2 separate regions of the Homo sapiens genome follow, and region 2 is linked to region 1. Evidence: fine-mapped expression QTL. Tissue or cell type: unexposed skin. Region 1 holds a variant in brackets; the other region holds the start of a gene. All regions are shown on one strand. Distances are from middle to middle.

Region 1 (5,364 bases):
GGAGGGTTAATCCCTGCTGTGGCAATCAGCAAACCCTGGTGTCCAAATTCTCAAGAGGGCCCAAGAGCAGCCCAGGCTTGGAGACTGAACCACTTGGATGCTTTTTTGTTTTAAAAAGCAAGTTGAGTGAGCAAAAGATCTTGACAGGAGACTGGATGACTATAGCGTGGGCGACTCCAGCCACAGGCCCAGGACTGGGACCCCTCCCAGGCTCCACCTGGAGCTGAATCACAGGGGCAGCAGGCCCATCCAAGGGCCATACTACAGGAGGTGCCTCCAGGAAGCCTGCAGGGGCCTGCTGAGCTTCTCTCATGGGGCACACCTGCTATTTCATATTCACGTCAGCACCCACTACATATGGGGTTTCACAGGCAGGGCTGGAGTCTGGTAGAATATGAACCACACTGAACAGACAGCACAGAATGGAATTCGCACTCCGTCACTCATGGGCTACATGGCCTCAGAGACATCAGGAAACTCGGGTTCCTCACCTGTAAAATGGGTGATAGAGACTCTCTTGCAGAGGGTAAATGGGCTCTAATCATCACCCAGTCATTGCATAATAAATGACAGCTCTCATGATTAGGGTGGGCATCTAGGGCTTCAGGATTTTAAAGGCAGAGTGGTCCAGCTTCTGCCTCATTCATCATCATTTATATCATTTGCATCACCATTGCACACTCCTGTGTGCTGGCCATAACGGATCTCTAATTTTCACAACAATCCTTGGGCCAGGTACATTAACCCTGGCCATATTAGAAATGGGGTAATCCACGCAGGGCCTCAGGAAACCAAGTGGCCGAGCCAGGGTCTGACCCTAGCTCCTTCCTCATCACCATGTGTCTTGTACCTGGGCTGCCCCCTCACTGCTCTAGAGTCCCAGACGGCTCCCTGTTAACAATGGGCCAGGCCCAGGATCCATAAGGAACCCTGCCTCTTCCACACAGGGCCTTCTTGCAGGCAAACAGGCTACACCCAGGTCCCTCCTGCATCTTTTGACCCACCAGAACCGTTGCCTGAAATGCCCTCCCCAGATCTCTCCCTGCAGCTCAGCCATTCATCCTTCAAGCTATCCAACTCCTCAAAGTGGCCCGTGACCACTCCAGGGTCAGTGACCGCTGCTGTAGTCTGCTCCCAGAATCTCGAAAGGGAGCCAAGTCCCAGGGGGCCCTCTGAGCTTCTGCAATGGACACTGACAGCTGGCCTGATCATGGGCAGCCCCAGGGCCTGTGTTGGGGGCCTGAGAGAATCTCAGGACCTGAGGACAGTGAGCCCCACCCTGCAGATGAAGAAGCCCAGGGTAGGTGATAGGATGAGGTGAGACCTTCATGCAGCTCCTTGGGGGTACTGGAACTGACCGAAGCCATCCTCAGGGCACGCTGTGGTACTGACCGCTTGACCTTACTCTAAACACCTGAAACTGGAAGACAAATCTGAAGCCCACCCTGGTCCATTACCTCTGCTTCTTGCCTAGAGGACCTTAATGATGCACTCCGATGCACTCTCCTTGGTCCCCTTCAATCCACCCTCACACCACAGCCAGGAGGAGGGCGTGCACCTGCCTGACCACCACCATGACCTCTGGGGAGCAGACAGAGGGGCAAGGCTTGTGTTTCTACACGTGCTTCAGTACTGTTTGCACATGTTCTAGAAAGTCTGTATAACTTATTAATAACAAAAAAGGGAGTATTGGCCGGGCATGGTGGCTCACGCCTGTCATCGCAGCACTTTGGGAGGCTGAGGTGGGCAGATCGTCTGAGGTCAGGAGCTCCAGACCAGCCTGGCCAAGAGGCCAGGAGGCGGAGGTTGCAGTGAGCTGAGATTGTGCCATTGCGCTCCAGCCTGGGTGACAAGAGCAAAACTCCATCTCAAAAGAAAAAAAAAAAAAAGGCCGGGCCCGATGGCTCACGCCTGTAATCCCCAAACTTTAGGAGGCCAAGGCGGGCGGATCACCTGAGGCCGAGAGATGGAGACCATTGTGGCCAACATGGTGAAACCCCATCTCTACTAAAAATACAAAAATTAGCTGGGTACGGTGGTGTGCTCCTGTAGTCCCAGCTACTCCGGAGGCTGAAGCAGGAGAATCACTTGAACCCGGGAGGCAGAGGTTGCAGTGAGCCAAGATTGCACCACTGTACTCCAGCCTGGTGACAGAGCGAGACTCTGTCAAAAAAAAAAAAAAAAAAAAAAAGGAGGGAGTATCTGTAGGGCTGTTGTGAGGCAGAGCTGCATTCACTCAACACAGCTTCCCTGCTCTTGTTTCAGGAAACAGCCCTTCCTTCAAGAGGGGAAGGGGCCACCCTTAAGCTCCAATGACATTCCAAGACAAAAGGAGATGAAGCAGAGCAAGCTCTGCATTTGCAGGCGGGAGGCCTAGGCTTCTGCTTTTGCCATCAACTCAATGTGTGATCTCAGGGCCTGAGTGGCCTCACCTGTAAAAACGACAAAGGCCTCTCCCATCCCTGACATTTTCAGACGTTTTGGAGATCCTAAGGCAGAGTCCCAGAAAATAGCAAGTAACTTCAGAAGCCCAGCCCTAGGCAGTCCCCTTTAGAAGACAGAATACTGCTTAAGAAAACCCTTGTAATGAGGCTATTAGCCAGGTCGAGGGGAGG[GGGC/C]ACCCGCTTTACCGTGCCTCCGGAAAGCCTGGTTCAGGCAGAGGCACAGCCAGGGCAAGAACGCTCCGGTCCTGCCCAAGCCTGGAACACGCACACAGGAGACAACTCGTTGCAAAACCCATGGCCCTGGGGATAGAGTCTGCCCTACATTAAGAAACACTTTCCAAATGAGATAATTATTTAATAGGTAATAAATGGAGTTGGAGAGAGGACAGTGGGAATTCAGTTGATTAAATGCCTGTGCCCCCCAGCACTGCAGGCCCTCCCCAGAGCCCAGCCTCCTGCCCCACATCTCCTGACATCATCTCATGCTCAGCTCACCTCCACCATTTCCTGCTTATGGATAACCAGCCTCCGGCCACTGGGCTGCACAGAGGGCCTGAGCCACAGGGTCCACAGCAAGGCAGCAGGCTGAATCCAAGCCATCCTGCCCTCCAGCAACTCAGCAGCTTGTCTCTTCCCCCATCCTGCCCAGGGGACTAGCAGGCCGGTGGCCAAGAGGATGAGACAGGACAAGGGTGGAGGCGAGAGGCCAGAAACATCAGAGGCTGCCCATTGTTGTTCACTAGCTTGGCCCTGACCCAGAGCCAAGCTTCATCTATGCCCATTTTAACTCAACAAAGTAGCCTTGATCAGTCTTCAAATCTATGGACATGGCGGGGGCATGGGGAGAGACCATCACCCACTAGCCACATGCCAAGTACCACAAGGAGTACTTACATGTGCATTTAATTGTTCAGGTTTGTTTATATTTTGTTTCTTGACAAATAAAAACACTGAGACTCGGAAAGCTTAAGTGACTTGTTGAAAGCCACACAGCTGGCATCAACTCCGGGAACCAATCCCACCCCTGCCAGCTCCAAACATGGGTTCTTTCCCCAGCACCAAGCTGTCATTCTCCCCCGCCCCCTGAGCACTCAGCAGGTGTTCACCTAACGTGAGCTCCCTTCTCACCTCGACCACCCTACACAGAGGCCAGGTGATCCCAGTCTCAAACAACTGAAGTTTCCCAGTAACCTTTCCATCGACCCACAAAAGATGCTCTGAGCAACTCCTCCAAGGAGAGCTCTAAGAAAGGTGCGAGGGAATTAGAAGCAACCGCAACTCTGAGTGAAGGAGCTTACTATCTCAGTGGGCCACGAGGAGAAACAAGCAGAGTATCAGAAAATGGGAAGGAGGGTTTACAAGGGCCCAGGGCCACCATCAGGCTGTGCGTGCAAAAAGAGATCAGAAACTGGTGGTGGGGGTGGGGGTGGGGGGGTTGATCCCCTGTGGGCTACACTGAGGTGGGACCTGGATGAAAATGCTGGAATATAGCAGGTGATTGATGAAAAATGCATTGGATAGCGGGGTGGCCTGGTGGGTGGATGAATGGATAGGTGTTTGGGTAGGATGGATGGGTTGATGAGTAGGTGGGTGTTTGGGTGAGGTGGATCAGTTAATGGGTGGGTGGATGGATGGATAGGTGGGTGAGTGGGTGGGCAGATGGGTAGGTAGGTGGGTGGGTCGGTGGGTGGGCGGGCAGATGGGTAGGTGGGTGGCTGGGTGGGAAGATGGGTAGGTAGGTGGGTGGGTGAGCAGATGGGTAGGTAGGTGGGTGGGTGGGTGGGCAGATGGGTAGGTGGGTGGGTGGGTGGGCAGATGGGTAGGTAGGTGAGTGGGCAGATAGGTAGGTGGGTGGGCAGATGGGTAGGTGGGTGGGCAAATGGGTAAGTGGATGGGCAGATGGGTAGGTGGGTGGTTGAATGGATGGAAGCTCTCTAGTCAGGATATTTCCTCCTGTCATCTCTCTGTCACTACCCTCCTCCCCACCTCACTCCTCTTTCCTCCATAGCCATTTCAGTTTAGATCTTTGTGATGTGCAGCTGCCCACAGAGTGGGCAGTGGCTTCAGAGGTTAAGATCCACAGCCCTGCACGTCTTGGGTGCATCACTAAGCTCTAAGCCTTCCCCTGGTCTTTAGGCTAGCATGGCCAAAAGGCATGGAAGGATGAGCTTTTCTGCCCAGCTTTCCCTCCACCCCATCTTCCATAAGCCCCGGCCCACACCTTTATTATTTCTGCCTGCCCAGGCAGCTCCCACCTTGATATAAATCAGAGGGCCTCTGGGCCCAGTTCAACCCAGAGAGGGCTACTCCCTCCAGGCCTGAAGTGAGCCAGGCACACCAAAGGCCCAAGTCCTCATCAGAGGCCTTTCCGTCTGGATTTTATCCCCATTCCAGCCACACGAGGCTTCTTCAGACGCCCCTGAGGAATGCAGTGGGACAGCCAACAGAGCAGCCCAGGAAAGCGCTGGTCTGCAGAGCCATGGGAGGGCAGTGGTCAGGCAAGTAGAATGACAGAGGGCTCGGGACTGCAGTCCCTGGAGATTAGGGGGCCCTGGAGGTTCCGGTGCCATGAGAGTGTTCTGTAGGCAGCTGAGCCAGCTCCCTTACACAGTGGCTGGTCCCAGGTCAAAGCCAGGTCCGGACACTGCAAAGTCTACAGGCAGTGGAGATCGGGGCGGTGGGCAGGTCCACTTTAAAACGAGGCCCATGATGGTGAGAACCCCATCCAAATCTCTACCTAGGAGCCGTCCTGCTTCCTGGCCCGGGCACAGTCGGCCCAAACCTGCCATAAATGGGAGGCCTGATTCCCAACCTGGAGCCCCACAGGAAGGAGCTAGAAGGTGCAACAAAGGGTGGCAAGGTGAGTGGCACAGCAGCTCTGATCCCAGAAGGCGCTGCCAATGCCCACATTAGAACCTGC
Region 2 (5,364 bases), 120 kb after region 1:
CAGGGAAAAACATCTCCACAATTTCCTGTAACCCTCAAGAGAGAAGCAGCAAGTCTAGGAAAACAAAAGCAAGAACGATGAAGAAAGAGGCACAAGAAGCATAGTCAAAAAGAAGAGAAGGCCCCTGATGGATCTGGATTCCACATTCTAGAATGACTGCCCCAGGACAGACCAGAAGCTGGGAAAAGCCTAAATAAAGAGCCTCCAAACTCAAAGCAGCCAGGCATAGCCAAGGTGCCCCCCGTCCCTGTGGAGTCAGGCCCAGGTAGCCACACCGTGAGCTTCCCCCTAAACAAGCAACTGCAAAGCCGTTCCCAGGCCCCAGGGAGGGCCTGTCCCCAGACACAGGGAAACCCAGCCAAGGGAACTCCCAGCAAGGTAAGGAAATGGGCGGAGAGAAAGCTGGCAGGTGAGGTGGCTGGAACAAACTGGTCTCATCAGGGAGGCCTGTGACAAACCCGCCTATTCCTCCGCTTTCCCCGCTGTATATTTTGGATTTCACAGTTTATTTACTTTACTTTTTGGCACCGAGCCCCCTGAGCATGCCAATACAATATTTGTTTAAACACTATTTTATGCTGCTTGCGAGGGAAACGTTTACTTTCAAATTCTCCTACATCCCCCAGAGCCTCGTCTGCAAACAGCCTATGAGCGTTTTACAACTGCTCCCTTTATCTGAAGCTGTCGGGATTAAACCTTCACACGCCCGGCAAGAGCGGCGGAGAGGGGGCCCGGGACACCGCTGCGGCCACCGAGCTGCAAAGCCCGTGCCAGAGGTCGCGCACCGAGCGGGATGCCCGGGCTGGGGGACAGAGGGACGCCTACAAGACTCCCAGGGCGCGGGACCAGACAGTAGGGACAGGTCTACTTTTCCAGCTGGGATCAACTCTAGGAGCCACAGAACAATTACACAAAAGAGAAGGTAGTGGAAAGAGGCACCCTCGGGGGGGCTCGAGGTCCCCGAGAGCCTCAGCGACCGATCACCCAGGGTGAGGCGCACGGGCTCCATCCCCAGCTCCCCGCGCGGTAAAAGTCGGGTTTCCTAGGAAATGACAGCAGTTACCGCCGGGCTGAAAAGGCGCCGAGCTGGGTGGACTCCCAGCTCTCCAGCGCGGCGGGCGCGCTCACACTCACACACGCAAGCACACGCTCCCTCCCAGCTCCCCGCCCCCGCCCCGTCCGGGGAAAAGACTCCCCTCTCTAAACCCTTAATAGGATTGGCGCCCAACTCTCTCCGCGCCTCTCCCCATCCATCACATACAGATCAAGTTGCAGTAGTGGATTTTTCAAATTCCTCAGCAAATATACTTGTTGAGAGATTGTCGGGGGTGGGGAGAGACGATGAGTAGGGGGGCAGGGATGAAAGTGAGGTGGAAGGGGGAACCGGAGGACCCGGCAAAGGATTACGTGCGGATCCCTTTGGGAAGTCAAGCGGATCTCAGGGCCGAGGGCAGGAGAGGAGGAGAAGAGAGGCAAAGAGGGGGGGCCGAGGAGGAGAGCCCAGCAGAGGGGGAGGGGGCGGCCGGGCCGGGCGAGGGGGAGGAAGGATTGAGGAAGGAAGAAAGAAAGGCAGGGCTCCGGGACGCGCAGCGCGGAGAAGTGGAGTTCGAAGTTCTCAAGTGGCTGGCTGCAGCCCCTCCGCGCTCAGTACGCCCGCAGACACGCTCCCATGCCCACCTACGGCAGCTTCGGAGCATCCCAGCCTCCGATCCCACCCTCCACCCCCTGAAAAAACAGACCCCCGCCGGCGCGCGGAGGCCGGCTCGCTGTGCACCCCGAGAAGAGTGGTGCTCTCCCCCAGGTAGGGAGAGGGTGCAACATCGACCTCTGGCCACGAGCTCCAAGCCCCAGGACTCTCCTTACGTCCCCGCCCTGCTCGTCCAGAGCCCCAGGCGGGGTCGCGCCTACTAGCCTCTAGTCCCCCGAAGCCCAGGGCCCCGATCCCAAGGCCTAGGCGCCGGTACCCGGCCGAGGGACCCCCCGAGACGGCGCAGCATCCCAGTCGGCCCGCGCTTGGCCGAGGTGGGAGGCGCTTCGTCACGAAAAGCAAGCAAAAGAAGGCCAATGCAACTTTACCGAGAGAGACAAAAGTTTGCCTCTAGCACGCAGGTGGCCTCTCGGGCGCCGGGCGGTGGCTGTGGGCCCCCATCCCACCTTGGCTGGCGCGGCGACCCTCGGCTGGCTGCCTTGTGCCGGGGCTCCAGCCAGCCGGGGCGGGGCGGGCCAGGCAAGAGAGGGGACCGAGAGGCGGGCGGGCGCCGCGCAGCCCCTACCGCCGGCGAGCAGGCGGCTCCCCGAGGCTGCGGCGCGCCGCGCGGCCCAAGCTCTTTCCTCCGGCTCCTCCTGCGGCTCCTGGCCTTCCTCCGCGTTCGCAGTCGCAGCCGCCGCCGCCGCCCGCTCCTCCTCGAAGTCTCATTGATGGGAGTTTGAAAAAAAGTCCGCGGAGCCGTGCTGCCTCGGCTGGCAAGCGCCGGCACTTCTGCAATCCATCAGCGCCGCCGGACTGCGCAGCGCCCCCGCGCGCACGGTGCGGGCACACCCGGGCCCCAAGAACCCGCCAGCCAGCCCGCCCGCTCCCTGCCGGGGGACGCAGGGGGACCCGAACGCCGCCGGGGCGGGGGGAGGGGAAAGGGGGAGCACAGGGACTCTCCCCACCCAGCACCAAGGAAAGAAAACGCACCTACAAGGAAAGTTCGAGAAAGGAACCAAAGGACGCGCCAATCTCCGACACTTTTTTTAGACGACTAGGTGTGGGGGGGGGGGTTGGGGGTGTCGCTAACTCAAGTCAGATGAGCTCCGGAGCTGAGGGGCAAGGGCTGCTCTGTTTTCAATCTCTGAAATCCCCCCGCCCTCCCCACCTCCCACTTCCCTCCTCGGGGAGATGCCTGGGTCGCTGTTCCCAGGGCGCCCGCTTCTCTGGACGCCCGCGCGGAAGCCGGGGACGCCAGAGAAGGGACGCGGGGGCTGGGTCCACGCGGACCCTCTTCCCGCGGGCAGCGAGCGCAGGTGCCGGGGGTCCTGAGGCGTCCCCCGCCGCCGCTAGCCCTCGTCGCCATCTGAGCACACGCTGGCGAGAAACGAAGCAGCCTTCTAGGTTTGGTGCATGTGGCTTGCAGGGTGGGTTTTTGTTTTGTTGTGTTGTGTGTTTTAGAGACTCCACTCGAGCCGCTGAAGCCAGATGGAAGTAATCAGAACCCAACAACAACAGAGAAAGAAGGAAGAAAAAACTCCTCATTGAATTTTCTAGCCAAAGTGTATATGGGGCTGTGTGTGAAAGAACTTGCTTAAGCAAGCTCAGTGAGGAGCCCTGGGCCCTCAAGCCACACCACAGCCCGGAACTGGGCCGCCAGGCTTGGAGGAGAATTGGGGGCAGCTGGCTAAAGTGTCCTCCCCACACCCCCGGGCCTGCCACCCTCTCCAGGGCCCCTGGGCCTCACCCGAAGAGGGTCTTGGGGGGAATTTCTGGTTTTATTCTTCCTAACGTTTGTAGAACACTCTACCAAGTGCCAGGTGATGTTATATTTTCTTTGTATTATTGGACTTTCACAGCTCTGTAAGGAAGGTTCTCTTCTCGTGTTTTTACAGGTGGGAAGTCTGATGCTTTAAAAAGTTAAGTAACTAGTCTAAGGTCAGAGCACTCTGCCATCCTCCCAGAGCTTCGGGTGGTTGTACTGTAAGTTCAGTTAAATTTGCCCTGTTGGGCCGGGCGCGGTGGCTCACGCTTGTAATCCTAGCACTTTGGGAGGCCGAGGCACGGGGATCACCTGAGGTCAGGAGTTCAAGACCAGCCTGGCCAACATGGTGAAACCCCGTCTCTACTAAAAATACAAAAAATTAGCCAGGGATAGTAGCGCGCGCCTGTAATCCCGGCTACTTGGGAGACTGAGGCTGGAGAATCTCTCAAACCCCTTGGGAGATGGAGGTTGCAGTGAGCCATGATGGCGCCACTGCACTCCAGCCTGGGTGATGGAGCGAGACTCTGTCTCAAAAAAATAAATTAATTAAATTAAATTTTTAAAAAATTGCCCTGTTGAGGTGGGTGGAAGTGTCTCTCCCTTCAGCCCCTGTTCCTAAAATTGCATTTTATTTGAAATGCAAGGGACCCAATGCTACCCTCCCTGAGGGGATGTGACCTACACAGGCCCATTTCACCGGTGCAACCCTTTTTGTGGGTGGCTCTCTCCATATACCTTTTATCCTCTGCTAACTTTATTCTTTTACTTTTTAATCAAAGAGGATGCATTAGAACTTCATTCCTTAAGATCCTCCTTCCTCCTCCTGACATTCACTTATATGATGGAGCAACAATTTCTTCTTGACCTAGAGAAAAAAATATGCAGAAAAATATTAGAACAATTTGATGCTAATTTTGTTTGGGGGGAAAAGGTCGGCAGCATTTTTAAAAAGCGAAACTTGCATAAGCCAATGATTTAAAGAGAAGTTTGAAAGGGGCTTTTTCTTTAAAGATGATCAGATTCACCATTCCTCCGTGCTATTTGTTTAAATTCCTGCTGAGCTTTCAGAACACAGACTCTAAGGAGACAGAAAAAGTAAACTCTCCCTCCCCTCCTTGGCCATATTTTAATGACCCTATTCATATCTGCCCCATGACATGTAGGGAATCATTTCTCATTGCTGGAATATTAGCCGCGTTGGCTGATTACTTCATTATGAGCTTGTCTCTGTTGATTTCCTTGTGTTGTAAAGTTTGTGAAGAAGTTTAAACAAATCAATGTTTTAGGATATTTCCTTCTTCTCTGTTTTTCTTCTCAGACCAGCTCAACTCCTGCTGGACTCCAGGCACTCACATAACCTTTCCCGGCTTATTTTGGCAAGAAGATGGCTGTCGAGATGAAGACAGAATGTTTTTTGGTTGGAGGAGAACTCTGTAGACACCGTGCCTGAATCTCTAGATGGTCAGAAGTTTGGGCGCTGAAAAAAGCAGCAGAAGGTTTGGAGTGGAGGCAAACTGGTGTGGCCAGGGAAGCCTTCGACTGAGCGCTGGGACACCAGGTCCTAGTCCCAGATCTGGTACTAAGTGTATGACCTTTGGCCAGTCTGGTTCATTCAATCAGTACCAGGCACTGTGCTAAGTGGCTCGACACCACAGTGAGCAACACCTACAAGATCTTTCCCCTTAGGGAGCTTATGTTTCATTAATAACCACAAACAAACATATAATCACAAACTGGGTAAAGGAAAATCCACCGTGCTGTGGGAGCCGGTGATTGGAGACCTGAGCAAGCTGGGAGGTGAGCTTGGGGAGGGGAGTGGTACAGAGAAGGAGAACGCTTTCCTGGGGAGATGAGGTTGCACTGATAAGAAGGAATGAGGAATGAGGGAGGGTGGACTAGGAGAAGGGGA

Which allele goes with the higher level. Alleles are on the strand shown, and positions count from the first base shown. SD is a standard deviation of normalised expression in the study named.
As copies of GGGC replace C in region 1, the expression in unexposed skin of the gene that starts at base 2,494 in region 2 goes down (small effect, 0.32 SD a copy in GTEx).

Evidence for each region. PIP is the estimated chance that this variant, and not a neighbour inherited with it, causes the effect.
Region 2: it holds the start of GLI2, and the variant in region 1 is fine-mapped to the expression of GLI2 in unexposed skin (GTEx, PIP above 0.99).

What each region holds. Positions count from the first base shown.
Region 1 is chr2:120,856,280-120,861,643 of GRCh38, reverse strand. The region is part of intron 2 of GLI2 (GLI family zinc finger 2); the gene reads right to left. Among named protein-coding and RNA genes, the nearest start is that of GLI2, 120 kb to the right of the region's middle. RefSeq lists an enhancer at 4,634-5,283. The variant GGGC/C (reference allele first, on the strand shown) is at 2,616.
Region 2 is chr2:120,732,998-120,738,361 of GRCh38, reverse strand. GLI2 (GLI family zinc finger 2) reads right to left here and starts at 2,494. Exons shown (of 14, transcript NM_001374353.1): 1 at 2,077-2,494. LOC124906073 (a long non-coding RNA gene) reads right to left here. Exons shown (of 3, transcript XR_007087219.1): 3 at 3,512-4,320. It overlaps LOC124907881 (a long non-coding RNA gene), which reads left to right and starts at 701. Exons shown (of 2, transcript XR_007087221.1): 1 at 701-1,801; 2 at 4,774-5,364. RefSeq lists enhancers at 289-789, 790-1,290, 2,409-2,578, 3,218-3,865.